2 separate regions of the Homo sapiens genome follow, and region 2 is linked to region 1. Evidence: fine-mapped expression QTL. A gene starts in region 1. The other region holds a variant in brackets. All regions are shown on one strand. Distances are between the middles of the regions.

Evidence for each region.
Region 2: its variant is fine-mapped to the expression of RASAL3 in whole blood (INTERVAL, PIP above 0.99).

The regions. Positions count from the first base shown.
Region 1 is chr19:15,455,753-15,471,309 of GRCh38, forward strand. RASAL3 (RAS protein activator like 3) reads right to left here and starts at 8,792. Exons shown (of 18, transcript NM_022904.3): 1 at 8,753-8,792; 2 at 8,279-8,625; 3 at 5,719-5,855; 4 at 5,466-5,544; 5 at 5,308-5,369; 6 at 4,451-4,506; 7 at 2,777-2,903; 8 at 2,576-2,674; 9 at 1,540-2,082; 10 at 750-894; 11 at 352-496. The coding sequence starts at 8,606. It overlaps PGLYRP2 (peptidoglycan recognition protein 2), which reads right to left. Exons shown (of 5, transcript NM_052890.4): 4 at 13,880-14,177; 5 at 12,893-13,000. The coding sequence ends at 12,911. RefSeq lists enhancers at 8,016-8,155, 8,256-8,385, 9,026-9,135, 14,134-14,223, 14,234-14,283.
Region 2 is chr19:15,502,503-15,518,059 of GRCh38, forward strand. It overlaps CYP4F22 (cytochrome P450 family 4 subfamily F member 22), which reads left to right and starts at 6,023. Exons shown (of 14, transcript NM_173483.4): 1 at 6,023-6,081. It also overlaps the pseudogene LOC100422106. RefSeq lists an enhancer at 5,667-6,167. The variant T/C (reference allele first, on the strand shown) is at 6,567.

The DNA.
Region 1 (15,557 bases):
GCGCTCAAGCGATCCTCCAGCCTCGGCTGGGAATACAGGTGTGTGCCACCATGCCTAGCTCATTTTTAAAAAGCTTTTTGGAGAGATGGAGTCTTGCTATGTTGCCCAGACTGGCCTTGAACTCCTGGGCTCAAGCAATCCTCTTGTCTCGGCCTCCTAAAGCATTGGGATTACGGGCGTGAGTCACCATGCCTGGTTCAAATGAGTAATTTTTTAGTATAAGCATGGTCCCAATTATTGCATCAAATTTAACTGAGTGTCTCCTGTATTTTATCTGGCCACCCTAAACTGGAGGTCGGGGCTAGCATGGTAAGCAGGGGTGGGCTAAGCTGCTGGGGCCCTGATTCTCACTCGTAGGAATGGATAATGGTTTCGAAGACCTCCTCGCAGCTGTTCCGAAGTCTGGCCTGGTGCTCTGGCAGCTCCGAGGCTGGACATTTGCTGGGGTCCACTTCACAGTCCTCAGTAGAAGCACAGAGACGCCGCACAACCTGTCCTGCAGCCCAGCACAGCCAGATAGGGGCTGGGGCCATGACCACCAAAACCTGCCACACCCATCCTCCAACCTTGTCTTCAGGTTATTCCGGAGGCACCCAACATCTTGGGGAGCTCCCAATTGTCCCCAGGATCCTAGCACCCCCAAAACACCACTCACTACCAGAATCCAGGTTGCTCAAGGACTCTTAGAACTTCACCCAGGTCCCCTAGCTCACCAGCAGGCCGCTGACATGGACTCTCCCCCAGCTCACCCAGGGTCTCCTGGAGGTAATCCTGTGCCACGAGCTTCATGTACTCATCGATAGCCTTGGTGGCCAATGTGTTTTCCCGGAACAGCAGCGCCTCACGGCCTCCACAGCGCGCCAGCTCCGCAGTGCCCAGGTCAGTCACCAGCGCCTAGGAAGGGCAGGAGGTCAGGTTGCACCAGATGCAGACAGAGTCCAAGGGAATTCGGATCCTTGGCTGGTCCCTCACACCAGAGGCACAGGCCCCGCCCCTTGTAGCTGATGCTTAGGCCCAGTCCTTACTGCTGGGGCTCATAACCGAGGCCGGAACCTCTAACCCTCACAGCAGAAATTTAAGCCTTTCAGCGCTGAGGTGCAACCTGGGCCCCGCCCCTCACGCGTGATGCTCAGGCCCCTGTCGCAGCTGAAGCTTAGGCTCCGCTCTTCAAGGTGTCCCGCCCCTTATGGGTGATAATTAGGCCCCGCCCCTCACAGCTGAAGCTCAGGCCCAGTCCTTCAAGGTGCCCCGCCCCTTACAGGTGCAGCTCAGCCCCAGCCCCTCACAGCTGACGCTCAGGTCCCGCCCTTCAAGGTGCCCCGCCCCTTACGGGTGATGTTCAGGCCCCGCCCTTCTAGGTGCCCCGCCCTTCTAGGTGCCCCGCCGCTTACAGGTGACACTTGGACCACGCCCCTCACACCCCTTCAAGGTGTCTCCCCCATTACAGGTGCAACTCAGGTCCTGCGCCCCAACTCCTGCCCGAAGCGCGTTATCGGTCTACCCCTGGTAGCCCCGGTCCGCGCTGTCGCGGTGCCGCACCTGCGCCCGGCCGGTGGCCCGCAGCACGCGCACCATGGCTGCCGCCAGCTCCTCCTTGGCCTGCGCAGGCAGCGCGGGCTCCAGGGCCCCGCAGAGGCGCGCATAGTGGAAGGTGAGGAACTCCGCCAGCTCCTTGTAGCGCTCGGACGGCAGCACGCGCAGGCGACGCGCCCGAATCCGCGCCCGCAGCGCTGCGCCCGCCGGCGCCCCGAGCAGCGGGAACCAGCGCTCCAGACCGGCGGCAGGCGCGCGTGGGGCGTCCAGCTCCTCCAGCGCCAGGGCCACGCGGCCCAGCACCGCGCTTCCCGGGCCCAAGCCGCGCAGCCGCAGCGACAGGCGACGTGCCGGTGGCAGCGCCTCGAAGTGGAAGCGCTCGGCCCAGAAGAGCTGGCCTGGGCCGGCCCGAGGCGCCGTGCGTGCCAGCAGCGCGCCATCCAGCCACAGCTCGGCGCGCACGCCGGGTGCCCCCGCCGCTGCTCGGGGAAGCCCCTTCGCTTCGTGCACCCACACGCTCAGCCATGTCTCTTCCCGCTCCACGTTGTCCTGCAGATGGGAGTGGGATGGGGGGAAGCGTTTTGGTTTGTTGGCACCCCAAAGAAGGCACCGCAAGTGAAGCGTGGAGCCTCAAACCTGTTGCGTCGGGTCCCTAGGGAGATTGCTGGGCCTTTGGGGAAAGAAGTGGAGCCACGGGAGTCCGGAGGCGGTTACGCGGAAGTCTTCTAGCTTTTCTGGGCTCTCCGGGAGAGTTGGGGGCTCCAGGGCATACAAGAGTAGTACTGGAGTAAAGACTTCGCGATTGCCTGGCAGGCAGGGCTTTGGGTGCATATGGGGCCGGGAGTGGACAGAAGGGGCGGGTCTGATATTCCCGGGGCTGGTAATAGATGGAAGGGGAGTCTTGGAGCCGTTGCAACGATGCAGGCGGGGCAGGTGTGTTGGGGGCGCGGGTTATGGAGCGAGCTGGCTTTGGGTAGAGTGGAAGGGGCGGGCCAGGCCTGTGGGCGGGGTCTCCGTGTCCCGCTTTTCTGAGGGCAATGACCTGGGTGGGCTGGAATTGGCGACGAAGGTCCTCGATCCAGCGGTCTCTCTCAGCGGCCGAGCGACAAGAGAAGCAGCGGCTTCCACCCGTCCAGGTTACCTGTTGGGATGGAGAATCCAACGGTGTGATCGAGGCCAAGGGTGAAGCCAAAGGGTGGGAGGTGGGACTGAGGTGGAATCGAGGTGGACTGTCTACACTTACCTGAAAGCAGTGGGGCTCCCCCAGGAGGCTGGGGTGCAGTGGCCAGATCCGCACATCCCGCTCGGCACCCAGGTCCAGTTCAGAGAGTGTGGCCAGCGACTCCCTAGAGCCCAGAGCACTGGGGGGTCTGGGAAGGGGGTGGGTGAGCACACCGTCATTCCTGCCTCTTCCCCATCCCCCATAGCCTGAAGGGTAGAGGAAGGCCAGGAAGGACTTCAACCCAATTCGGATCCCGTTTCTCCCCCGTGCCCCCCCCACCCCCCGCCATGGCACCTCCTTGCTTTTAGGATAAACTCAACTCCTGGTGACCTACATGACCAAGCTGGGTCCAGATGTTGTCACCTCATCTCCCTCCACCTAATCCATCACTTTCTGAGCTCCAGCCTCCCTGGCCTTGTTTTATTTTATCCTATTTATTTATTTATTTATTTATTTGAGACAGAGTCTTGTTTAGTGCGGTGGCTGGATCTCAGCTCACTGCAACCTCTGCCTTCCAGGTTCAAGTGATTTTCCTTCCTCAGCCTCCCAAGTAGCTGGGATCACAGGTGCCCACCACCATGCCTGGCTAATTTTCTAATTTTTATATTTTTAGTAGAGGTGGGGTTTCACCATGTTGGCCAGGCTGGTCTTGAACTCCTGATCCCAAGTGATCCACCCGCCTCAGCCTCACCAAAGTGTGGGATTACAGGTGTGAGCCACCGTGCCCAGCCCTATTTATTTATTTATTTATTTATTGAGATGGAGTCTTGCCCTTTTGCCCAGGCAGGAGTGCAGTGGCACAATCTTGGCTCACTGCAATGTCCACCTCCCAGGTTTAAGCGATTCTTCTGCCTCAGCCTCCTGAGTAACTGGGATTACAGGCATTCGCCACCATGCCTGGCTAATTTTGTATTTTAAGTAGAGATGGGATTTCACCACGTTGGCCAGGCTGGTCTTGAACTCCTGACCTCAAATGTTCCACCTGCCTCTGCCTCCCAAACTGTGGGATTACAGGTGTGAGCCACCGCACCCAGCCCTATTTATTTTTGAGACACAATCTTGCTCTGTTGCCCAGGCTGGAGTGCAGTGGCATGATCTCTGTGCACTGCAGCCTCAACTTCCCAGGCTCAAGCAATCCTCCCACTCAGCCTCCCCAGTAGGTGGGACTACAGGTGCCCGCCACCATGCCTAGCTAATTTTTGTATTTTTTGTAGAAATGGGGTCTCACTATGTTGCCCAGGCTGGTCTCGAACTCCTAGACTCAAGCAGTCTGCCCACTTTGGCCTCCCAAAGTGCTGGGAGCCACTTCACCCAGCCCTCTTGGCCTTGTTTTAGTTGCTTCTTTCGGCCTCTTGGCCTTTGCACTTGTTGTTCCTTCTGCCTGGAATGCTTTTTCCACCCCCCTGTTGGCCTAGTTAACTTCCATCCACCCTTCAGATCTCAGCTCAAGGGTACCTTCCCTAACCCTCCCAGACCAGTTGATTGACTTAGCTCCCATTTTAGAGTTATTGTGTCAGACTTTGCCCCCACCCTGGCTCTGTGCTAGATCATTCAATGTCCCCAGCATCAACTGATGTGGGGCAGAACACAGAGGCCACAGGGGGTGTTTGGTGTAGATTGGAATGATATGCAGGAGGTGGAGGAGGAGGGGCCAGTGTTGAACCCCAGCCCCTCCAGCCTCTCATACACCCTTACCCATCCCGGGGCTCCAACCTGGCCTTTTTCTTCTCTTTCAGCCTCTTGAGCAACCCCTGTGGGGAAGGGAATGTCAGCTGGACAGAAATCTGTGCTCCTTCCTCAGCTCCTTCCCTCCCAAGACATCCCAGAGGATCTACTGGTCTTGGAGGACCAACACCAAGCTCAGGCTGTATTAGCAGGAATAATAAGAGCAATCAGCAGCTCCTAATTCTTTGTTCATTTGTTTTTTTAAGACAGGGTCTCGTGCTGTCGCCCAGGCTGGAGTACAGTGGTGCGATCATGGCTCACTGCAGCCTCAAATTTCTGGGCTCAAGTGATCCTCTTGCCTCAGCTGGGACTACAGGTGAATGTTACCATGTAGAATTGGGGACTTGCTATGTTGCCCAGGCTGGTCTTGAACTCCTGGTCTCAAGCAATCCTTCTGCTTCAGCCTCCCAAAATGTTGGGATTACAGGTGTGAACCACTGTGCCTGGCCCAAACTCCCATTTGTAAAGCATCAATCATATATTCTCCTATACTATTCATTTATTTATTTAAGAGATGAAGTCTCCCCATGTTGCTTAGGCTGGTGTTGAACTCCTGGCCTCAAGCAGTGCTCTCTGCTCAGCCTCCCGAGTAGCTTGGACTATAGCTGCGCACTGCCCTGCCTGGCTCCTGCACTCTCTATTGGCTTCCCATAAACAACCCCTAGAGAAAGGTTATTTCATTAGCTTCATTTGACAGACTGGGACTCTGAGGCCCAAAGAGGGTCAGCAACCTGCTCCAGATCACCCAGCAAGAGTGCCCTTTCAGCTTTGAGGGTCCGAGAGTCTTGGCTCTCCCCTCTACCTCCCACCTTCACTGGCTGCCTTACCCGAACGTTGTGGACCTGGTTGGGACCAGCAGTCTCCGGTTCTGTTTTTCCAGGCATCCGATCTGTGGGTCGTTATGGGTGGCAGGTTGGGGGGTTGGATTCTGCCCCACTTTTAGAGCCTCCCAAATGCCCCAGGCCTTTCCACCCCTCAAGCTTACCTGGATCCCTGAAGTTCCCCATGGCCACGTGGATGCTGCCCTCGGAGCTAGCACTTCCCACCCGGGGCCTTCGAGGACCCTGTTCTCCCGCAGGAGTGGGTAGTCAGAGAGGGGAGGCAGGCAGGCAGGCAGGCAGGCAGACCGAGGGAGAGGCAGACACCTTCCCATTATCCTCCCTCCAGCCCCTGCCTCTGTTCTGCCCTCCTCCTTTTTCTTTCTTCCCTCCTCCCCTTTCCCAGGTGCCCCCTCTCACCTCCTCCTCTCCTCCAAGCAGCACCAGCTTCCCATCAAGCAGGGTGAAGCCCCCAATGTCCCAGACAGGCACGTTGGGTGTGGGGGCCTCAGGGATCTGTGGGGTAGGGGGCTCCAGCTCTGGCTCCGGCTCCAGCTCTGGGAAGAAGAGGAGGCACTGGGGGACTTAAGAGACGTTTTCTCTCCCTCAGGCTACCCTTTCCATTCCCGAAGGCTCATGGTGGGTTCCCTCCTAGGTGCCCCCCACCCCAGCAGCCGTATCAGACTGTATGACCTTGGGCAAGCTTTCATCGCTGTCTGGGCCTTGTCCCCACTAACCATGGGTAGCAGACACAACTCACCTACCATGTGCCCAGTACCCTGTATACCACTCCACACACCTTCTTGCATTGAATCCTCCAAAAGCCATTCAAAGGGCTATGATAACAGGCTCAGAGAGGTTGAGTGACTTGCTCAGGGTCACACAGTTTGTGAGTGGTTGGGCTGGGCTTCAGTCACAAGCATTCTTCTCTCTCTCTCTTTTTTTGTTTTTTTGTTTTTTTTGCATTCTTCTCTTAACCAAGACATTATGTGGGTCCAAGAGGTTAAAAAACAGGACAGGGGCTGGGCAAGGTGGCTCATGCCTGTAATCCCAACATTTGGGAGGCCGAGGTGGGGCAGATTGCTTGAGACCAGGAGTTTGAGACCAGCCTGGGCAACATAACAAGACCCTGTCTTTAAAAAATAGCCTGATGTGCCTGGGCTCTGTGGCTCACACCTGTAATCCTAGCACTTTGGGAGGCCTAGGCGGGTGGATCATCTGAGGCTGGGAGTTCAAAACCAGCCTGACCAACATGGAGAAACCCCGTCTCTACTAAAAATACAAAATTAGCCAGGCGTGGTGGCACATGCCTGTAATCCCAGTTACTCAGGAGGCTGAGGCAGGAGAATCTCTTGAACTTGGGAGGCAGAGGTTGCAGTGAGCTGAGATTCCGCCACTGCACTCCAGCCTGGGCAAGGAAGTGAGACTGTGTCTCAAAACAAAAACAAAAACAAAAACAAAATGGGAATATAAGCAGTGAGAATTAAATGAGCTTCCAGGAAATAGGAGGGCTGAATTAGCCCTCCCAGATTGCCTGTCTGTTCCCTTGTTTTTACCACCAGGAGCAATAAATGATAACTCCCGCTTATTAACGGATCACTTAAAATATGTTGGGCCTGGGGCCGGGCGCGGTGGCTCACGCCTGTAATCCCAGCACTTTGGGAGGCTGAGGCGGGCGGATCATGAGGTCAGGAGATCGAGACCATTCTGGTTAACACAGTGAAACCCTGTCTCTACTAGAAATACAACAATTAGCTGGGCATGGTGGCGGGTTCCTGTAGTCCCAGCTGCTCAGGAGGCTGAGGCAGGAGAATGGCGTGAACCCAGGAGGCGGAGCTTGCGGTGAGCCGAGATCGCGCCACTGCACTCCAGCCTGGGCAACAGAGCGAGACTCCATCTCAAAAAAAAAATAAAAAAAATGCTGGGCCCTAGGCTAGTGTTACATTCCTGAGCCCTAATTCTTGTGATATCCATTACTCTTCTAGATCCCCCTGTGTGACACTTAGCACCATCTGTCATTTTTTTTCTTTCTTTTTTTTTTTTTTCTTCCATTGAGATGGAGTCTCCCTCTGTCGCCCAGGCGGGAGTGCAGTAGTGCAATCTCAGCTCACTGCAACCTCCACCTCCCGGGTTCAAGCGATTATCCTGCCTCAGCCTCCTGAGTAGCTGGGAGTACAGGTATGTGCCACCATGCCTAGATACTTTTTTTTTTTTGTATTTTTAGTAGAAACAGGGTTTTGCCATGTTGGCCAGGCTGGTCTCGAACTCCTGAGCTCAGGTGATCCACCCACCTTGGCCTCCCAAAGTGCTGGGATTACAGGTGTGAGCCATCATGCCTGGCCCATCTGTCATTTTCTTGTTGATGGATTTCCTGTCAATTCCACTACACTGTGAGCTCCATGGGGCAGGGAGGGTCATCTGTCTCTTTCACTAGTGTGTCCTCAGTGCCTAAATCAGGGCCTGGCACATACAATAGAAGCTCAACAAACCTCTGCTTGAATAAATGAATGAATATGAGCAAATAAAATTATATACTCTCCAAAATGGAGATCATTATTCTCACTGAACTGATGGAGAGGCTGAGGCTTAAGGGCTCAGAACAAAGACACGGAAGCTAGAAGGTAGGAGAGTAGGAGGCAGGCTGAAGATGGATATCCAGGTAGGAAAGGATGGGCCTGAGCCATTGAAGGAGAGACCCGTTGGGGCCAAGAGCCGTTTAGCCTCTGGACAATACTATCACGGGTTTACATTCACTGTTCCTTCCTCAGATGGACCCTCTGCCCACAGGACCCCGGCAACTCCTCCTACCCTCTTTAGGGGGAAAGAGGGAACAGGGTAGCTGGGCCCCAGCGGCTTCCTGCTGGGCTTTTGCACTCCCCACAACTTCCTGTGTCTGTATGGTTGATGCTCCGGAGGCAGACAAAACCCAAGCATCCGGCTTCCCAGCCCGGCCCAAGCTCAGGGTGGGGGAACCATGTACCTGGGGCCTCCTGCTCCGGCTCCGGGTCTGGCTCCGGCGGTGGGTTCTTATGCCTCCCCCAGAGGGCCTTGGAGAGTCGAAGGCGACTGGTCCGTGACTCCTTGGGAGGCGCAGATAGGACCCGACGGAATATCGAGCGAGGGGCTGGCTGGGTGCTGACCATGGGCTCCTGGTGGCTCAGGGCCCTGCCCCAGCCAGCAAAGCGGCCCCAGCGGAACCCTCCAGCCGCCTTCTCCCCACCGCCCCCTGTGTGCCAGCGGTAGGAAGTCAGCGGAGAGGTGGCTGTGGGCTGGGTTTGGGAGGTCCGGCTTGGCGACGGTGGGTCCATGGTTGGGGGGGGGGGTCTCCTGGGGGACGAGAGAGTGACAGTAGTGCCCAGTGTCTGTCCACATACTGCCCTCATCTCGGCCCCCTCCCCACCCTCAGCTCTGCCTCCAGGAATCCCCCTGCCCCCACCTCCACTCCCTCCCTTACCTTGGTTTCCTGACCAGCCCCAGAATCAGCAGCCGTCTGCACCCCGCCTGGCTTCCTCCCTCGGAACCCAACTCCACGTGACCCTCTCTGTCCCACCCCACCCCACAGCCAGGCTGGGAGGGCACAGTGCGGGCAGGTTGCTGGAGGTTCGAGGGAGGAGAAGAGAGGAGGTGGGTTACCAGGCTTCTAGCAAGAAGGACCCAGACTGCCTCCCTGACGGGGAGGCAGCACTTGCCCCTCTCTCTGAGCCTCCGTTGCCTTCTCTGCAAAATGAGTACAGGCTGAACAAATGCTGGCGAGAATACAAAGCACCTAGAACTCTAATCCACAGTTGGCCGGAGTGTAGACCCATTCACTCATGTTGGGAAACGGTTTGGCAGGATCTACTAACACTACTAGCTGGATCTTCTCTGACTCAGCAATTCCATTGCTAGGTAGACGTCCAATAGATATGCCCCCCCAGCACAATGCATAATAGCCCCACATTGGAAGCAGCCTAAGTACCCATTAGTGGGAGAAGGAATAAATTGTGATCTCTTCGCACAGCAGAATATCATACAGCAGTGAGAACAAACTAAAGAATGATTTAACTTGGGTGAATCACAAACAATGTTGAGCCAAAACCAAAACCAAAGCCATAAAATGCCAGTAATCTGAGCTATTCAGGAGGCTGAGGGAGGAGGATCGCTTGAGGCCAGGAGTTCGAGGCTGCAGTGAGCTGTGATCATGCCTGTGAATAGGCAGTGCACTCCAGTCTGGGTGACATAGGGAGACCTCATATCTAACTTTTTTTTTTCTTTTTCCCCTCCCTGCCCTCGGGAGACCCCATCTCTAAAAAGCAATAATAAATAAATTTAAAAACCCCAAAACAATGAAGAGTATACACTTTGTGATTCCATTTACATAAAGTCCTAAAGCAGGCAAAACCATGTCTAACAAGCAGGGTATCAGTTTCTTTTGGAGGCACTGGTGGCTGGGAAGAGGGTACAAGGGGGGCTTCTGGAAGATGGCAAGATTTATTATTACTCTTATTATTATTAATTGATTTATTTATCGAGAAGGAGTTTCGCTCTGTCTCCCAGGCTGGTGTGCAGTGGCACGATCTTGGCTCACTGCAATCTCTGCCTCCCGGATTCAAGTGATTCTCCCTACTCAGCCTCCTGAGTAGCTGGGACTACAGGTATTCACCACCATGCCTGCCTAATTTTTTTGTATTTTTAGTAGAGACGGGGTTTCACCATGTTGGTCAGGCTGGTCTTGAACTCCTGACCTGAAATGATCTGCCCGCCTTGGCCTCCCAAAGTGCTGGTATTATAGGCGTAAGCCACCGTGCCCGGCCCTTATTATTATTATTATTTATAAATGAGGTCTATAAAAATAATATAGATCTCATAAAATAAAAATATAATATTTATATTACATAGTAATATAAATAATATTACATTATACATAATATGAATATTATTATTTTTTGTAGATGAGGTCTGTCATCCAGGCTGGAGTGCAGTGGTGCCATCATAGCTCTCTGTAACCTCTAACTCCTGGGCTCAAGAGATCCTCTCGCCTTAGCCTCCTGAGTAGCTGGGACTACAGCTGCATGCCACCACACCTGGCTTATTAAAAACAATTTTTTTGTTGTTGTTGAGATGAGGGTCTTGCTTTGTTGCCCAGGCTGTTCTTGAACTCCTGGCCTCAAGTGATCCTCCCACCTCAGCCCCCTAAGTAGCTGGGATAATAGGCACATGCTACCATGCCTGGCCTATTTTTTTTTTAATTGAGGTAAAATTCATATAACACAAATTTAGCATGTTCTTTTTTTTTTAATAAGATTTTTTTTTGAGACAGGGTCTTGCTCTGTTGGCCAAGCTGGAGTGCAGTGGCACAATCACAGCTCACTGCATTCTCAACCTCCTGGGCTCAAGCGATCCTCCTACCTCAGGCTCTCGAGTAGCTGGGACTACAGGTGCATGCTACCTGACTAATTTTTAACTTTTTGTTTGTTTGTTTTTTGTAGAGATGGGGCCTCACTATGTTGCCCATGCTTGTCTTGAACTCCTGGGCTCAAGCAATCCTCATGCCTCAGCCTCCCAAAGTGCTGGGAATACAGGAATAGCATCAGCCTCTGTGCCCAGAGAGACGAAGCCTTGTTCTGTCACCCAGGCAGGAGTACAGTGGCTATTCCCAGGCATGATTGTGGGTCACTGCAACCTTGAATTCCTGGGCTCAGGCAATCCTCCTGCCTCAGCCTCCTGAGTAGCTGGGACTGCAGGTGCATGCCACCATGCCTGGCTAATTTTAATTTTTTTTTTTTTGTAAAGAGACAGGGTCTCACTATGTTGCCCAGGCTGGTCTCCTACTCCTGGGCTCAGGCAGTCCTCCTGCTTCAGCCTCTGTAGTGGCTGGGACTGCAGATGTGTGCCACCACGCTTGGCTTAACATGTTCTATTTCTTGAGCTGGGTCCTGGTTACATGGCTGTGTGCTGTTGTGAAAATTCATCAAGCTGTGCCCTTGGGAGCACTTTCTTGTATCTCTGTTAGGCTTCCACAGATGTTTACTTGAAAGCCAGAGGTAAGTAAATGCCATTCTGAGGAATAAATGAGTCAGCATAAATCCGGTCCAGGAGCCGAGTACCAGCTGGCCCCTCTCCCTCTGTGTGACCTCAGACAAGTCATTTCCTCTCTCTGAGCCTCGTTTTCCTTATTTGTACAAGACGATAATATCAGTTTCAAAAGATTCATGTAAGCCTTTGTCTAGTCAACAAATGTTTCCCGAGTGCCTATTACATGCTAGGTGCTGGAGAGGCCGCAGAGAACTAACCAAACTTGGTTTCTGCCTTCCTGGAGCTCACAGATGATGGAGGTAGATAAGATCCTAAACTCATACATGAGACATTTCTAGCTGGTAAGGAGGACCTAGAAGGAAATAGGCTGCAGTGAATGCTGAGCAAAAATGCCACTCTTTGAGCTGGAAAAATCAGGGAGGACTTCCCTGAGGAGGTGACATTTGCAGCCATTTGTATCTAGCAGATGGAGTCCACTATGTCTGTGTAACAAGCATTCCAAAAGTGCCAGTGAATTAACATGTCCCTGAGAGCAGCCCTCACATAATAACTGGTGGGAATTAGTGTATAAATACCCCAGCTCCCTCAACCCTTGTGTGGGATGACTCAGGTATGTGTCCTATGCTCTCCCTCAGGGCTTCGAAGTGAGACTGAGCTCTCTTGCCTACAGTGGAAACTTGCTTGAAAACACATTATTCCCTGGCTGCCTCCAGTTCCCTGCATCGGTACCTGGGTTGTTCACCTCTCTATTTTTTCTTTTTCTTTTTTTTTTTTTCCTTCCTTCCTTCCTTCCTTCCTTCCTTCCTTCCTTCCTTCCTTCCTTCCTTCCTCCCTTCCTCCCTTTCTCCCTTCTTTCCTCTTTCTTTCGTTCTTTCTTTCTTCCTTTCTTTCTTTTTTTTTCTTTGAGACAAGCTCTCACTCTCTTCTCCAGGCTGCTGTACAGTGACGCAATCATGGTTCACTGCAGCCTCGACCTCCCAGCCCAAGCAATCCTCCCACCTCAGCCTCCGGAGTAGCTGGGACTGCAGGCACACAACATTGTACCTGGATAATTTTTTCTTTTTTTGAGACAGGGTCTTGCTCTGTCTCCCAGGCTGGAGTGCAGTGGTGTGATTTCAGCTCACGGCAACCTCTGCCTCCTAGGCCCAAGTGATCCTCCTACCTCAAGTGTGTGGCACCACTCCTGGCTAATTTTTTGTATTTTTGTTAGAGACGGGGTTTTGTCATGTTGGCCAGGCTGGTCTTGAACTCCTGAGCTCAGGCGATCCACCCTCCTCAGCATCCCAAAATGCTGGGATTACAGGCATGAGCCACCGTGCCTGGCTATGCCTGGATAATTTGAAAATTTTTTTTTGCAGAGATGAGATTTCACTCTATTGCCCAGGTTGTTTTCGAACTCCTGAGCTCAGGTGATCCCCTCGCCTCAGCCTCCCAAAGTGCTGGGATTACAGATGTGAGCTGCCGTGCCCTGCCCTGGGATCTCCTCTCAATAAACTACTTGTACTGGAATTATTGTCTTAAGGTCTGCTTTTGGGAAGACCCAAACTAAGACAATGCATGATGATGCATGAACAGAGACTTTGTTTCCATGCTGTCTTTATTGGAGGTCTGTGGCTGGCAGGGTCCTTGGGGGTGGCTCCCTCCTGGATCTCTTAGAGACACTCCTGGCAGGTCTTGGCTTAACAGTCTGGAAAAAGACAAGGGAGTGTGAGGCTTGGGGGTGGTTGTGGTATGTGGCTGGGTCTGCCCTCCTGGTGGTGGAACCCTGGATCAGGGAGGGGACAGTGGCCCAAAGTGAGAGAGTGAGGACAAAGCCAACTATAGGCCGAGATGGATGTGCTAGTCAATAGCTTAATGAAATGGAGTGGCAGTATGTAGGTAGCACGAGATTGTCCAGGTGTGATTCTAAAATTGTTTTAGTGATGGCGATCAAGGGCTGGGATGAGGTCATCAGGTCAAAGTTGTGCTGGCATAAGAGTTGTCATCAGGGGTTAAGGAGTCAGGGACGAAACAAGCAACCTCAGAGTTGAGATTGTCTGGACAGAGAATTGCAACACAGGATTAAGGACTGGACAGAGGTTGTGAAGGCAAAAGGTCACAGCCTAGGTTCATGTTGTGTGGACAGAGGGCCTTCGGGTAGGGGCAGGGGTGAGGTCAAGGTTCGGCGGGCCAGGATGAGGTGGTGCAGCCTGACAGGTTGTGACTTGGGTAGAGAAGTCATGAAGGCCAGGCTGAGGTTGTGAGGGCAGAGGGGCTGTTGGCAGGTGTCAGGGTCCATGCCTTGGCTGGAAAGGTAGAGGTATTAGGAGCTGGGGAAAGGACAGGCTGGCTGGGTCTGGGGCTGAGCTGAGGCTGCATAGGCAGAAGTCACAGGATCAGGGATGTTGCCCGCAGAGTGACCCGCAAAGGCTGGGCCTAGGTTTCCTGAATAGACGTGCCGCCGGGAAGTTGGGGGCCTGGCTGAGGCTGTGCGGGCACAGCTGTTACAGGCAGGGGGCAGGGGCCTCGTGGAGCTTGTGTAGACGGAGGGGCGGCGGGCCGTGTAGTGCAGGCTGCGAAGACTCACCGCGGTGAAGTGCGGCCAGGTGCGCAGCAGGTCGAAGAGCGCGTCGCCGGGGCAGTCGGTGCGCACCAGCTGGCGGTGGCCCAGCAGCGCGTAGTCTGGCCGCAGGAGGCCGGCGCGCACCGCACAACTCGGGAGCGTGTCGCGCACCGTGCGCAGAGCGGCCTCGGTGGGCAGCGCCGCGGTGTAGTTGCCCACTATGGCCACGCCGAAGCCCCGGGAGTTGTGGCCGAGCGTGTGGGCGCCCACCCAGTGCCAGCCGCGTCCCTCGTACACGTAGCCGTCCGAGCCCACCACGAAACTGCAGAGGGGAGGGAGAAGCAAGCACCATGCGGCGTGAGGGGGACCCGGGCCCTTATCCGCTCCCCTCCCCGATTCTGTTGGTGTGCCAAGGGCCACCGACCCCAAGACCCGCGCGGTCGCGCTGCCTGTGTCCCATCCAGCTCTGTTCCACTCTCACACCAGCTGCCACTCCAGGACCGTTCGGTTTCTCTGGATCCGCCCTTCAGTACTGGCACGCCCCTTTCTGCCCTTCTCCTCCCCACCTCTGCCTTTTCTCAAGCCCAGTTCTTGCCCAATTCAGAGAGCTTTTCTGTTTTTGGGTTTTTTTTCTTTCCTTCCTTCCTTCCTTCCTTCCTTCCTTCCTTCCTTCCTTCCTTCCTTCCTTCTTTCTTTCTTTCTTTTTTTGATGGAGTTTCACTCTTGTCGCTGAGGCTGAAGTGCAAGGGCGCGATCTCGGCTCACTGCCACCTCCACCTCCCGGGTTCAAGCGATTCTCCTGCCTCAGCCTCCGGAGTAGCTGGGATTACAGGCACCCGCCACCACGCCCATCTAATTTTTTTTTTAATTTTTATTTTTAGTAGAGACGGTGTTTCGCCATGTTGGCCAGGCTGGTCTCGAACTCCTGACCTCAGGTTATCTGCCCTCCTCGGCCTCCCAAAGTGCTGGGATTACAGGCGTGAGCCACTGTGCCCAGCCTTCTCCCCTCCCCTCGCCACCCCTCCCTTCTTCCCTTCCCTTCCCTTCCCTTTTGGAGACGGAGTTTCGCTCTTGTAGCCCAGGCTGGAGTGCAACGACGCGATCTCGGCTCACTGCAACCTCCGCTTCCCAGGTTCAAGTGATTCTCCCGTCTCAGCCTCCCGACTAGCTGGGATTACAGGCATGCACCACCACGCCCGGCTAATTTTGTATTTTTAGTAGAGACGGGGTTTCTCCATGTTGGCCAGGCTGGTCTGGAACTCCCGACCTCAGGTGATCCACCCGCCTCAGCCTCCCAAAGTGCTGGGATTACAGGCGTTAGCCACCGCTCCCGGCCTCCTTCTTCTTTTCGAGACGGGTTCTCGCTCTGTCACTCAGGCTAGAGTGCAGAGATGCGATCATAACTCACTCAAGCCTCGAACTCCTGGGCTCCAGCGATCCTCCCACCTTAGCCTGCCGAGTAGCTGGGACTACAGGCGCGCAACACCATGCCCAGCTTTTTTTTTTTTTTTTTTTTTTTTTTTGAGACGGAGTCTCGCTCTGTCGCCCAGGCTGGAGTGCAATGGCGCGATCTCGGCTCACTGCAGGCTCCGCCTTCCGGGTTCACGCCATTCTCCTGCCTCAGCCTCCCAAGTAGCTGGGACTACAGGCACCCGCCATCACGCCTGGCTAATTTTTTTGTATTTTTTAGTAGAGACGGGGT
Region 2 (15,557 bases), 47 kb after region 1:
GGTTAGGTTATTTGTAACTCATCTTCTTTCCATGCAGGCTGGCTGTGTCCCTCCACCGGAGGTTCAGAACTCTTGACAGGTGGACCTCTTTGCATAGCCCTGTCTGGTCCAGGTTCTAGCAACTTTAGTTCCTTGGCCCCAGGTCCTAGGGGTGGTAACTAATTTCAGCTGTTACCAGCCCCTGGTGTGCTGCACTATCCCTTTGAAAATAGTGCTTTTTATTAAACTCTCTACAAATTACTCCACTTAAGTGTTCGGTCTGTTTCCTGCCGAGTTCTTTTTTATTTTTATTTTTTTTGAGATGGAGTCTCACTCTGTCACTCAGGCTGGAGTGCGGTGGCACGATCTTGGCTCACTACAACCTCTGCCTCCCGGGTTCAAGTGATTCTCCTTCCTCAGCCTCCCGAATAGCTGGGACTACAGGCGTGAGCCCCCATGCCCGGCTAATTTTTGTATTTTTAGTAGAGACAGGGTTTCACCATGTTGACGAGGCTGGTCTCGAATTCCTGAGCTCAGGAGATCTGCCCGCCTCGGCCTCCCAAAGTACTAGGATTACAGGCATAAGCCACCGCGCCTGGCCCTCTTTTGTTTTTAGAGACAGGGTCTCACTCTGTTGCTCAGACTGGAGTGAAGTGGTGCAATTGTAGCTCACTGAAACCTCAAACTCCTGAGCTCAAGCAATCGTCCCACCTCAGCCTCCTGAGTAGCTGGGACTACAGGCATGTACCACTATGCCTAATTTGTTATTTTTTATAATTTTTACAAAAAATTATTTTTTTTAGAGATGGGGTCTGGCTATGTTGCTCAGGCTGGTCTTGAACTCCTGGACTGAAGCAATCCTCCTGCCTCGACCTCCCAATAATAATAATTATATATATAATTATTATATATATTATATATAATAATTATTATATATTATATATATATAATTATTATATATATATAATATATATATATATAAAGTATTTATTTTAATTGAGGTGAGGCCGGGCACAGTGGCTCATGCCTGTAATCCCAGCACTTTGGGAGGCTGAAGAGGGAGGATCACTTGAGGCCAGGAGTTTGAGACCAGCCTGGCGAACATGGCAAAACCCCGTCTCTACTAAAAATATAAAAAAATTAGCTGGCTGTGTGTCACAGGCCTGTAATCCCAGCTACTTGAGAGGCTGAGGCACGAGAATTGTTTGAACCCAGGAGCCGGAGTTTGCAGTGAGTTGAGATCGCACCACTGCACTCCAGCCTGGGCAACAGGTGAGACTCTGTCTCAAAAAAAAAAAAAAAAAAAAAAAAAAATTGAGGTGAAATTCACATAACATAAAATTAACCCTTTAAAGTGTAGAATTCAGTGACATTTAGTGCATTCACAATGTTGTGCAACTATCACCTTTATCTAGTTCCAGTGTTTTTGTCACCCCAAAAGGAGGTCCTATAACCACTCCCCCTGGGTATGGGCTTCTCTCTCCATCCCCCCTCCCCCAGCCCCTGGCAACAACTACTCCACTTTCTGTCTCTGTGAATTCACTTAGTCTGAATATTTCATATAAATGTAATAATGCACTGTGTGACCTTTTGTGTCTGGTTTCTTTCACTCAGCACAATGTTTATGAGGCTCATCCACATTGCGGCATGGATCAGGGTTTTATTTATTTTTATTTGTATTTTTTTTTTCAGACGGAGTCTCACTCTGTCCCCCAGGCTGGAGTGCAGTGGTGCGATCTTGGCTCACTGCAATCTTTGCCTTCCGGGTTCAAGCGATTCTCCTGCCTCAGCCTCCCGAGTAGCTGGGATTACAGGTGCCCGCCACCGTGCCCAGATAATTTTTGTATTTTTAGTAGAGACAGGGTCTCACCATGTTGGCCAGGCTGGCTCAACCTCCTGACCTCAGGTGATCCACCTGCCTCGGCCTCCCAAAGTGCTGGGATTACAGGCAAGAGCCACCTCGCCCGGCCTTTATTCTTTTTTATGACTGAGTAATATTCCATTGTATGGATGGACCACAGTTTGTTTATCCATTCATCTGTTGGTGGAATTTGGGTTGTTTCCACCTTTGGCTATAATAAATCGTGCTATCCCGAGCACTCCTCTACAATTACGTGTGAGTAACTGTTTTCTTTTCTCTTTCTTTCTCTTTATCTCTCTCTCTCTCTCTCTCTCTCTCTCTCTCTCTCTGTCTCTTCTTTCTTTCTTTTTCTTTTTTTTTGAGACAGGGTCTCATTCTGTAGCCAGGCTGGCGTGAAGTGGTACAATCTCAGCTGACTGCAATCTCAGCCTCCCAGTCTCAAGCTGTCTATCCTCCCACCTCAGCCTCCCAAGTAGCTGGGACTATAGGTACGCACATCATGTCCAGCTAATTTTTTATATTTTGTAGAAATGAAGTCTTGCTATGTTGTTCCCCAGGCTAGTCTGGAACTCCTGGGCTTAAGTGATGCTCTCTTGCCTCAGCCTCCCAAAGTGCTGAGATGACAGCTGTAGACCACTGTACCTGGCAAGTACTTGTTTTCAGTTATTGTGTGTGTATACCTAGGAGTGGAATATCTGGGTCCTATGGTAATTCTGATTAGCTTTTTGAGAAATTCCCAAACTGTTTTCCACTGTGGCTGAACCATTTTACGTTGCCACCAGCAGGGTATGGCGAGATCCCTCTTCTTTTTATCTTTGACTCCCTGCCATGACCTGCCACATCCACTCCCAGACAGCTTTCTACTACCATTTCCCAAGTCCAGCCACAGCCTCCACTTCCTCCCCTCCCACTTCAACCTCACCCCACTGAGCCCTGGGCTGTGGCAGGCTGAGGGCTCTGGTGGCATGGGAACCACACAGCTCTAGAGCTTGGGTTCCTTGACGTCTAGGTGCCAGTGATGGTCCCTACTACCACTCTTCTCAAACTCCATCTCCAGCTCCAGCTCAGTGCTGCTGCCTGTCCTCTCTATAAATGTAGCTATTATCTCTGAGGTCAGGAGTTTGAGACCAGCCTGGCCAAAATGGCAAAACCCTGTCTCTACTAAAAATACAAAAATTAGCCGGGCGTGGTGGTGCAAGCCTGTAATCCCAGCTACTCAGGAGGCTGAGGCAGGAGAATTGCTTGAACCCGGGAGGTGGAGGTTGCAGTCAGCCAAGATAGCACCACTGCACTCTAGCCTGGGTGACAGAGCAAGACTCTGTTTGATTAAAAAATAAAATAAAAGGCCAGGCACGGCAGCTCATGCCTGTAATCCCAGCACTTTGGGAGGCCAAGGCAGGTGGATCACTTGAGGTCAGGAGTTTGAGACCAGCCTGGCCAATACGGCGAAACCCCGTCTCTACTAAAAATACAAAAATTAGCCGGGCTTGGTGGTGGGCACCTGTAGTCTCAGCTACTCGGGAGGCTGAGGCAGGAGAATCGCTTGACCCCGGGAGGCGGAGGTTACAGTGAGCCAAGATTGTGCCACTGTATCCAGCCTGGACAACAGAGCAACAGAGTGAGACTCCATCTTAAAAAAAAAAAAAAAGTGGCTGTGATCCCCACTTCTGCCCTCCCCTCCTCTTCTCTGCCCACCTCCCTCCTGAGTGATCTCGCTGACCTACTGCCATGCCATCCACCGTCTTCCCAAGGCAGGTGACTCACAGATGCAATTCTCAGGAGGTGCCCTCACGCTGAGCCCAACTGCCTCCTGGATGTCTCCCTGAATGTCATCCCATGAGACCCACGAGACTTTTAGACTGAAGGTGACCCACGGTTTCCCAATCTTAGCACTGTCAACATTTGAGCCTGGATTATTCTTTGGGGGTGGGGGTGTTCTGGATGTTGAATAATATCTCTGGCCTTCACCCACTAGATGTCAGTTGCACCACCCTGAATTCCCCCACCCCCACCTCTACCCCCCACCCAGCAGTATGATCTCCTGATGTTGCTAAACATTCCCTGGCGGAAAACTCTACTCTGCTGGGATGGCCCCAATCAACTGCAAACTCAAACAGCTGATGTTTGTCCAGCCTGTGCCCTGTGCCAGGAGTGGGGCTGAACACCACCTCATCACATGGGCTTCTTCTGCATTTTATGCATAGGGAGATGGAGGCTCAGAGCAGCCATGTGACTAGCTCAAGGCCACACATCCACGAAGCCCACTCTTAGTGCTCCAGGCCCTTTCACTTACTCCTCCTTCCTGGTCTCCAGCTCTTTGAGAGCAGAGAAGCCAGGCAGATGGCTTCTTTTCCTTCTCTCTTCCCTAGAACCCCGTATTTAGCCAGTGGTCAGTGGAGATGACCTCCGGGACCTCATCCTTAACCCCTTCCTGGGTCTCAGCTACCCCCACCCTTTGTCTCTGTCCCCTGCAGCCACTGGAGGGGTCCCTCTCAAACTTCACTCTATGTGGATCTCTGCATTTTCCAAAGTGCTTCTAGTAAGCTCCCCCTTGGCCAGAATTACTGGCAAAACAAAATTCATATCCCTAAAAAATAGGCTTTCATGCTGCGTTAATTATGAATAAAAAATTAATAAAATAAGCTCTTCCTCAGAAGTAAAAAAGATTAAAGACACAAATAAATATAAATATTTTTTTTTAAAAGTTCTAGGAGCTGGGAGAATGGCTTGAGCCCAGGAGTTTGAGACCAGCCTGGGCAACATAGTGAGACCCTGTCTCTAAAAAAATGAAAAAAAAAAATTAGCTGGGTGTGGTGGCACGTGTCTGTAGTCCCAACTACCCAGGAGGCTGAGGCAGGAGGATGGCTTGAGCCCAGGAGTCACCCCAGCCTGGATGACAGAGTGAGACCAATCAACTAACAGGGGGCACCTCCCCTACTCAAGCACCATCCATGGCTCCCCACTGCCCACCAGATCAAGATCCAGCCATTCAAACTGGCCTTCACAGTCAACTCCTGCATCCCTCCAGCCTCCACACCTCTCACACTCCAAGGCCAGGGAAAGCCATCTGCTAAGTCACACCCTCCAGTTTCTCTGTGCTTGAGCTCTACCCCCTCTCCTGCACTTGTTGAAATCCAACCTCTCCATGCAGTCCCAGCTCAAGTGTCACATCCTCCACGTCGCCTTCCCTGACCTCATGTCTGCCTCCTCCAAGCAGCAAAACTTCAATTACTTGTGTCTCCTCTTCTTCACCAGGAGACATGCCCCACACCTCCCACGCCCTCTTTCCAAGGGCCCAGCACCAAATGAGAGCGTATTCTTAGAAAAAAGAGGGATAAGGAAGTCTTCTAAGTTTACCACCTGCTGGGGCAAGTGGAGATTCTTGTCTTCTCATCTGTCTGCCCACGTGCTAAGGTCAGCCACACATCCACCCACCGACTCCGGAGGACAGACACATCCAGAGGCGGAGCTGACTCTGTCTCCACACATCTGGAGTAGACGGGTTGGCCAAGGACAACATCCTGGTCAGAGGGTCAAGGTGTCTGGCAGTGGGTGGGGAGGAGTGGCGGAGGGCGGGTTGGCGGGGAGCAGAACCAGTCTGGTGCTGCTTGTTGAGGTTGGAGGTCTTCCTGGAGGAAGAGGCTGCAGAGCCTCCAGGGGTGGGTGCCGGGGAAGCTTAGGCCCAGGATCCAGAGAGAGGGGAAGGGCTGGTTCCCAAGGGCTGGTGGAGCCAGAGAATTCCTGAGGGCCCCAGAGGAGGCTTCTCGGGGGGGTCAGTGGGGCCCCAGGGGGTGATGGTTTAGAGATCGCTGTCCAAGCTTGGGAGCAAACCTGGAAGTAAGGGCCATGGGGGGTGTTGGTGTGGGAGGAGTGTGGTCCAGAGCGGGACTTGGGCGCTAATGCGGCCCAGCAGTGGCAGGAGGGCGGGGAGCCTGATGGTTTGGGACTTCTAGGTGTCCAAGTCTCTGTCTCTCTTCATCTCTCCATCTCAGTCTCAGTCTCTCTCTCTTTCCATCGCTCTCCACCCCTCCACACGCCTATTTCTTGTTCTCTCCTTTTCTAGGGGGCAGCGCTGGAGTCCCCGCCCAGAACCCTGCGGGAGCCCGGGGCGGGATGTCCGGGGGCGGACCCCTCGGCACGGCCGGGCGGGGTTAAAGGGTTGGGCCGTGGGACGGCGCGGTCAGATCCCAGGTAGTGGCGCCGGTGGATCCGGATCGAGGGCAGGAGGCTGAGACCCGCGGGTGAGTGCGCGCGTGGTGAGGGCTGTAACCTGAGCGCGGCCGCGGCGCTGCGCTGGAACCCGAGGCTCGCGCGGTTCGGTGCTGGCGGGGCAAGGGCGAAGGTCTGCGCGCGGCGGCGGGCGGGGCGCAGCCGGCCACGGGGACCCCCCCAGGACCCAGGACGGGGCTGCATGCCCGGGGCACTCGTGGGGAGAGGGGCACGTGGGTGTGTCCCCGACGTTTGCTGCATTTGTGAGTTGTTTTCTTTTTTTTTTTTTCTGTGTGCGCCTCGGAGTCCTAGGCGCATCCTTTTCTCTGGGTATCTGTGATGGGCAGGGGGCCTCCAAAAGACCCCTCTGGTAGTCAGGACATCCCAGATGGGTTCAAGCCCCGCCCTGGGACGCCTCTTTGGGGCTGAATGGGGATTCGCCCTGAGATTTCACCACTGCACGTTGTCTTGACGGGGAGGTTGTAGTACATTCAACCGATGGGGTTAGGCTTGTGGT[T/C]CAACTGCTATCAGGAACCCTCTGCCCATCCATGCCAGACGCAGAGCCCCTCTATGAAAAGACGGTGTTCTTCTGGCCCCGAGAGTTGGCTCTGAGGGTTGTGTGAGGTCCTGGGGTTGGTCCCAGGTGATCTTCGTCTGATAGATGCTGGAAGGAAGATGTTTTCTGGCCTCCCAGGGGCCTGGCCCAGCCTGGGTATGCAAGTTGGCCGAGGCTGGCCACCTGGGGAGTCGCAGGCTGGAGAGGCCTAGGCTCAGGGCATCTCTCCTGGTTCATCTGCCCGCTCACAGCTCATTCATGCACTCATTGTGAGTCTCACCGCCCTGTAGGCAAAGGAGATGGCCAGGGCTGGCTGCGTACCCGAAATTCCTCCTACCCTGTGCCCCTTGCTCCACCCCTTATTTCTAGGTCCTGGAGCTGTGCCCAGCCAGGGCTGGCAGCATCAAACTCCTTCTTGTGTAACTCCAAACCCCAAAGAGAAGGAACCTCCCCAAATCTTCCCTACCACCCTCATTTTACAGGCACGGAAACTGAGGGCCAGAGAGAAGAAGCCTGTGCCTGTGGATACCCAGTGCCCAGTGGGAGAGCTGGGATTTGAAAAAACAAGCCCTGTTTGACCCCAAAGCCTCAGTCCACTTTCCGATGTCCCCGGCATCACCAAATGGCCCAGCTTGGGTTTCTGAACAGTAACATTAACTCTGGCCTGGTGTCTGGCGGTGACCCAGGTTGGTATCTGCAGAGGGGCTTGGATGACTTGAGAGGCATTCAGGGAATGGGACCCATCTCTCCTTCCTTCCTTCCTTCCTTCCTTCCTTCCTTCCTTCCTTCCTTCCTTCCTTTCTTTCTTTCCTTCCTTCTTTCTTTCTTTCTTTCTTTCTTTTCTCTGTCTCTCTCTCTTTCTTTCTTTCTTTCTTTTTTTGTTGTTGTTGTTGAGACAGGGTCTCACTTTGTCACCCAGGCAGGAGTGCAGTGGCATAATCATAGCTCACTGCAGCCTCGATCTCCTGGGTTCAAGCAATCCTCCTACCTCAGCCTCCTGAGTATGGAGGACTACAGGCATGCACCACCACTCCTGTCTACTTTTTGTATTTTTGGTAGGGATGGGGTTTCACCATGTTGCCCAGGCTGGTCTTGAACTCTTGGGCTCAAGTGATCCACCCGCCTCAGCCTCCCAAAGTGCTGGGATTACAGGCATGAGCCACTGCGCCTGACTCATCTCTCCTTGTTGATAAAACTTGGACCTGATTCTCCAAACCCCAGATGGCCAGGTCACAATAATGAACGTGATGGCAGCACCAACGGTAATGAGAGATATCATTGATCAAAGGCTTACTATGTGCCTGGAAGATTGCAGCCCCATGAGGTGGGTAAATAGGGCTTCTGTCTTAATGGATGAAGAAATTGAGGCTCAGAGAGGTGCAGACACTCACCCGAGGTCGCACAGCAAAGAGGCAGACCTTTATAGAATCTTTTCTGAGGCTCATGTCCAGGTGTGGCCACACTTGGGATGGTGGGCAGAAACAATTACAACCCTGCAATGGTCTAGATTATTAGTGGTTTTAAAACTTCTTTTTCTGCCAGGATCCCCTTTGGGCCAAGGAAATTATTAGCAAAAGGTTTGAATATGATCAAAGCTGCGATAGGACTGTCTCCTTTACCACATTTGCCAACTTGGCCCTGCCCTCATTAGTCATAAATGACTCTGAAGCTCTTTCTCAGAACCTTAGAAATTTAGAGTGCTGAGTGGAGACTGAAGACCTAGAAGCCAGGCTGAGTGTGGTGGCTCATGCCTGTAATCCCAGCACTTTGGGAGGCTAAGGCTGGAGGATGGTTTGAGCCCAGGACTTTGAGACCAGCCTGGGGAATATAGGGATACCATATATATATATATATATATATTTTTTTTTTTTTTTTTGAGATGGAGTTTTGCTCTTGTTGCCCAGGCTGGAGTGTAATGGCGTGATCTTGGCTCACTGCAACCCCTGCCTCCCGGGTTCAAGCTGTTCTCTTGCCTCAGCCTCCTGAGTAGCTGAGACTACAGGCATGTGCCACCATGCCTGGCTAATTTTGTATTTTTAGTAGAGATGGGGTTTCTCCATGTTGGTCAGGCTGGTCTCGAACTCCCGACCTCAGGTGATCCTCCCTCCTCCCAAAGTGCTGAGATTACAGGCATGATTACAGGCATGAGCCACCGCGCCCAGCACTATATTAATTTTTTTTAACAAAAAAATTAAAAAAAAATTAGCTGAGCATGGTGGCAGGCGCCTGTAGTCCCAGCTACTCAGGATGCTGAGGTGGGAGGATCACTCAAGCCCAGGACGGGGAGGTTGCAGTGAGCCAAGATCACACCACTGCACTCCAGCCTGAAGGACACAGCAAGACCATGTCTAAAAAACAAAACAAACAAACAACAACAACAACAAAACAACTTAGAAGTCCCCTCTCAGCTCCAGCCTTCTGGGGTCTGGCACTTTGGGGGAATATGTGAGTCTCTGGGGTAAGCCAGCCCTCTGATGTTGAGGAAGCCAAGGTGGCACCATGAATCAGTGGGGACGGGGGCAGGCTGCCTTGACTACAGGCTTGGAGTGAAAAGGAGGGCTGGGATTTGGGGTGATGGGGCCAGCGTTGGGGTGCTCTTCCATCAGGCTCCTGGCTGGTCCCAGCCCCTGCAGTTCAAGAAGAGGCATGTATCTCGTACCTGGCGTCGGCCTGGGTCCGTGCCCTCCACTCCTTCTTGGGAGCCCACACACCTTGTATAACAAGTCCTCAGTGGGTGAACGGCTGGGCCAACCTGACAAACCAGCGCGACCTGGGCGTGGGCCGGGACACGGAGCCAGTCGCTGGCTTTCACCACCACCAGATAATGCGGGCCCTGGCAGGGCAGGGCCACCTCTACCAAGGCGGGCCTGCTGGATGAGATCGGGGGCCGGTGTAGATAGGGAGTGGACATGCCAGCCGCCCACAACATTCTGAGGGTGTCACCTTTGAATTGCTCTCACTTCTATCAAATAGCAATAATAGGAGTAGTCATCATGGCTAACATTTTGTGAGCTACGTGACAAGGCCTTTCCATGCCTCATTTCACTGAGCCGTCCCAAAAACCTTAGGGGGTAGGTCCTGTTATTATCAACCCATTTCACAGATTGGCAAAGGGAGGCTGATGGCAGGGACTGGGTTCACCCAAGGCTGCTAACCTAGGGAATAGGAGAGCTGAGATTTGAACCCAGGCCTGTTGAAGTCAAAAGTGAACATTAAATTAAATTAAATTAATTTTAGTTTTTGAGATAGAGTCTCACTCTGTCCCCCAGGCTGGAGTGCAGTGGCAAGATTTTGGCTCATTGCAACCTCTGCCTCAGCCTCCCAAGTAGCTGGGGCTACAGGCATCCACCACCATGCCCAGCTATTTCTTTTTTTCTTGGTAGAGACAGGGTTTCATCATGTTGCCCAGGTTGGTCTTAAATTCCTGACCTCAAGTGATCCTCCCTCCTCAGCCTCCCAAAGTGCTGGGATTACAGGCATGAGCCACCATGCCTGGCCTGATTTTTTTGTTTTTTAGTAGAGACGGAGTCTCACTATGTTGCACAGGCTGGTCTCAAATTCCTTGGTTCAAGTGATCCTCCCATCTTGGCCTCCCAAAGTGCTGGGATTACGGGCATGAGCCACTTCACCTGGCTGATACCTTTCCTCCATTATCTAAACTCCATAGTTTACATTAGGATTCACTCTTTGTGTCATGCAGTAAACTAATGAATTTTTATAATTGATTCAATTTTTTTTGAATGGGTGACATGTGCTCATGGTATAGGAAACCAAAACGACTGGAAAAGTGGATAGTAAACTTAAGTTTCCCTTCCACCCCTGTCCCGAGTTCTTTCAGGCCCTTTCCAGAGGCTGCCACCATTTTTCCTGGGTCCTCAAAGCTTTTCTCTCTCTCTCTCTCTCTCTTTTTTGTATTACCATTTATTGGTGACAAACACTAAGTTTTACTCGCATTCCATGAGGAGAAAAACTCCAGTGTAAACGATGAATGGAGGCAGTACTTAACTCGCAGGGGTACCAGGCTTTCCATATGGACCACACACAGAGCCTCAGTGCACACACTTCTTTTTTCATTTTTATTTTTTTGAGACGGAATCTCGCTTTGTGACCCAGGCTGGAGTGCAGTGGCATGTTCTCGGCTCACTGCAACCTCTGCCTCCCGAGTTCAAGCGATTCTCCTGCCTCAGCCTCCTGAGTAGCTGGGACTACAGGCGAATGCTGCCACGCCCTGCTAATTTTTTGTATATATATATATTTTTTTTTTTTTTTTTTTTTGAGACAGAGTCTCACTCTGTCACCGAGGCTGGAGTGCAGTGGCGCGATCTCGGCTCACTGCAAACTCCGCCTCCCGGGTTCACGCCATTCTTCAGCCTCAGCCTCCCGAGTAGCTGGGACTACAGGCGCCCGCCACCTCGCCCGGCTAATTTTTTTTATTTTTAGTAGAGACGGGGTTTCACCGTGTTAGCTAGGATGGTCTCGATCTCCTGACCTCGTGATCTGCCCGCCTCGGCCTCCCAAAGTGCTGGGATTACAAGCGTGAGCCACCACGCCCAGCCTAATTTTTTTGTATTTTAGTAGAGATGGTGTTTCACCGTGTTGTCCAGGCTGGTTGCGAACTCCTGAGCTCAGGCAATCCGCACCCCCCTCGGTCTCCCAAAGTGCTGGGATTACAGGCGTGAGCCACCGCACCCGGCCCAGTGCACACACTTCTGTGTATAGTAACACAACATCAAAAGCAACACAACTGTATAAAGAAACATAGGTCATACTTTTCAGCCCTAATCGAGATGTAATTAATAGTATCGAGCACTCTGGAAAATCAGTCTGCAGTTTTATGTGAACTATGTGGAGATCATATCCTGTAGTGTAGTGAAAGCTAAGTCCTCAAGAGCCGTATGTATAGACACATGATTTTCTTAAAGAATATTTAAAATGGAGATCAAAGTTCATTTGTTTAAGTCCTGTTTGCATTAACAAAAATAAAAATAAAATAAAAATGGAAGCAAATGATCATCTAAAGTTTAAAATTCCTAAATTGTCCAATTTATACAACTGTGGGAGACTTATTCAAGGTTTTTGAAAGTCCAGGACTGTTTCAGCTGAACCATAGGGCACGTAATTTGCATCACTGAAATGGTGCTGGGTTAGTCAATGAAATAAAAATGTCTAACTACATACACGTGGATATGATCTTTGTCGGTTAGATTATTGATAAAGTCAGTCTCAGAAAAGTTTCCAAACTGTGCGATATAATTAGATACAGTTGAGAAACTCTCAAATGAAAATTTTATATAGTGTCGTCGGGCACGGTGGCTCATGCCAGTAATCCCAGCACTTTGGGAGGCCGAGGCGGGTGGATCACGAGGTCAGGAGTTCAAGACCAGCCTGGCCAAGATGGTGAAACCCCGTCTCTATTAAAAGTACAAAAACTAGCTGGGTGTGGTGGCCCAGCTACTCGGGAGGCTGAGGCAGACAATTGCTTGAACCTGGGAGGCAGAAGTTGCAGGGAGCCAAGACTGTGCCGTTGCACTCCAGCCTGGGTGACAGAGTGAGACTTTGTCTTGAAAGAAAGAAAGAAAGAAAAAGAAAGAAAGAAAGAAGGAAGGAAGGCAGGAAGGAGGAAAATTTTATATAGTGTCATACCAATAAAAAGGAAATAATGAAACTAAGAATACAGATCACTGTTGGAAGAGAAAGCAGTGGTGATGGTGTGGGCACTGCAGGAAGTGGTGGGGCCGTGGCACACTAGAAGTTAGGTCATGCTGAATAGGAAGCATTTGACTTTCTCTGGTGCTTTTAGCTCTGGGGCTGGTTGAAGGCCTCTCTCTGGTGTGGCTGTCCAGGGTTTGTCCCAACTAAGCCAGCTTGAGAAGGGGTCATGCTTTCAGTTTCTTCTTTCACACGGGAAAAAAAAGACCAAACAGGAAGGTGCCCAGGGCGTGGATCTGCTGGTGCCCCAGGAGAGCCAGCTGGCTGGGCAGCCCTTCTTCCCCAAAGGCAGCTGGTATTGCGTAGGGACAGCCAGGTCACCGAGTGGCCGTCACAACAAACCCCAGCACAGTCCAGCCCGGCCACAGCCACCTCCCCTGTTGTGTTCCCTGCTGCTGCCCACATCCTTTACCCACCGTCTCTCGGCCCACTAGAGGTATCAGAAATTCCAAATTTTCAAAGCAGTTTTAATATTTTCAGTGTATATGTTGGGATTTTATAATGGTTCATGGCCAGAAAAGGTTCAGCACCTCCCACACACAGACATTGATCCATTTCCTGTTCTTGGCATCTCTGTACTTTGTTGGTCCAACTCAGACAGCAACTTTAAGGTGTTCAGTGCAGCTGGCCAGGCACGGTGGCTCACGCTTGCAATCCCAGCACTTTGGGAGGCCGAGGTGGATGGTTCGCCTGAGGTCAGGAGTTCAAGACCAGCCTGGCCAATATGGTGACACCCCGTCTCTACTAAAAAGTACAAAAATTAGCCAGGTGTGGTGGCGCATGCCGGTAATCTTAGCTACCCAGGAGGCTGAGGCAGGAGAATTGCTGGAACCCGGGAGGCAAAGGCTGCAGTGAGCTGAGATAGCACCACTGTACTCCAGCCTGGGCAACAGAGCGAGACTCTGTCTTTTTTTTATTTTCTTTTGAGATGGAGTCTCGCCCTGTCACCCAGGCTGGAGGGCAGTGGCGCGATCTCGGCTCACTGCAAGCTCTGCCTCCTGGGTTCACGCCATTCTCCTGCCTCAGCCTCCTGAGTAGCTGGGACTACAGGCGCCCGCCACCACGTCCGGCTAATTTTTTGTATTTTTAGTAGAGATGGGGTTTCACCATGTTAGCCAGGATGGTCTTGATCTCCTGACCTCGTGATCTGCCCGCCTCAGCCTCCCAAAGTGCTGGGATTACAGGCATGAGTCACCGCGCCCGGTCGAGACTCGGTCTTGAAAAATAAAAAAGAAAAAGAAAAAGATGTTTAGTGCAGCCATATCATAGCAGGACTCAACATCCTTGCCAATACTATGTGTTAGATATAAGAGAATAAGTACATTCTATGTCTTTGTACTTTAACCAAGATATTTGTACTAGACATGCTCACAGGCACATAGTACATTCTACGTCCTTGTACTTTAACCAAGATATCTGTGCTGGATGTGCTCACAGGCATGTCCCAGCTCGCAGCCCATGCCCTTTCCTTATTTGGAAATATTATTGCTTTTCTAAGTCCTTTTGTAAGCAACTTCCTCTTTTCCTTTGCTCTCTATTGCCTTTACCTATTTAGGAAAGTTTTAAATTATTAGCCAGTCAGGTTTAATTTAGATTGTGAGGTCTTGCTTCAGCCAATGGAGACAGGACACAGTAGCAAGGACAAACTGCATAAGGGATAAAAATTGCTTCCCTCCTTTGTTCAGGTGTGCTCTCGCCATTATTCCATCTGCAAGGAGCACCCTTTATGCAGAAAGTAAAATTGCCTTGCTGAGAAAACTTATTATCTGAATGCTGATTTTTACTTGCAGTACCGAGGAACAAGCATTCTATTTCTGAATAAACATTTTACTTATAACACTATGGCTGATCAGAGGCGGCTGAGAGGAGCAATGGATAAGAGATACAAATTCATTCTTGTTGTTTTTGGGGAAGTCTTTGTATTCAACCTGGAATCCCTGGACTCTGGAAAGATAGTCCACTTGCTCAGAGGATCTCATGAGAGGTCCATGGGGTACGTGGCCTGAAGAGATGTTATTCTTTTTTTTTTTTTTTTTTTGAGACGGAGTCTGTTGCCAGGCTGGAGTGCAGTGGCACGATCTTGGCTCACTGCAACCTCTGACTACCTGGTTCAAGCGATTCTCCTGCCTCAGCCTCCCAAGCAACTGGGATTACAGGCACGCATGGCTGATTTTTTGTATTATCAGTAGAGAAGGGGTTTTGCCATGTTGGCCAGGCTGGTCTTGAACTCCTGACCTCAGGCAATCCGCCCACCTCAGCCTCCCAAAGTGCTGGGATTACAAGTGTGAGCCACCGTGCCCGACCTCAAATGATAATTCTAGGGTTTCCCCACAGTGGCTGCACTATTTTTTTTTGTGGGTGCCAGACAGAAGTGTTCTTGTTTGAGGGACAGGAGGACCCCAGCTGTGGAAAGTATAGGACTTCCCCAATGTACCTTTCATGGTGGTCTTCCCATGGGCATCTGGTGGACCTCTTGTCATGATTCCCATTTTGTAGTGGAGAAACTGGAGGCTTCCAGAGAGTGTCCCAACTGGGGACTCACAACATGTGGTCCTGCCTGGGGGCAGAGCCAGGGGTTGTTTGTCCTGGGAAGGACTTCAGCCCATGTCTGGTAGGGGGACGGGGAGGTGAAGCGGACACAGGGCTCCACAACTCCCCTCTCTCACCCTCCCCAAGCACCCATCTCCCCATGTACCCAGCCACCTGGAGCAGGGATCCCTCTCTAGGGCTGGCACCTTCTCTTATCCCAATTCTTTCCCATTTCATTCATTCCAGAAGACATTTCCTTTGTTGAGATTTCAGCTGGGATTTTCCTGGGTGCGAGTTGGGGGCTCTAGCTGTGATTTCACTCAGAAGTCTTCCAGCTCTCTTTAAGGCTTACTGGGAAGATGGAGTGAATGATAGTGAAAATCATCACACATAACAGGCACTCAATGATTCTTTGGAGAGTGATCTAGGGGAGGTGGCTGATTGTGGTGCAAAGGAGTGGACCATCAGGGCAGAGCTGGGGTTGGAGGATGAGGAGCTGGTGTGGGCACAGCTGAGGAAAGGAATGTGGATGGAGGGAACAGAATGTGCAAAGGCTCTGAGACGGGAAGTTGCTTGGCCTGTGGAAGGAGTGGCCTGGAGCAGCCTGAGGTGAGCAAGTGAGGAGGAGGGTGGTGGGAGACAGGGCTAGAGGCATCAACAGGGGTAAGCCATGTAGGTTGTTGTGGTCCATGACAAAAAGTCTAAATTTAGCTG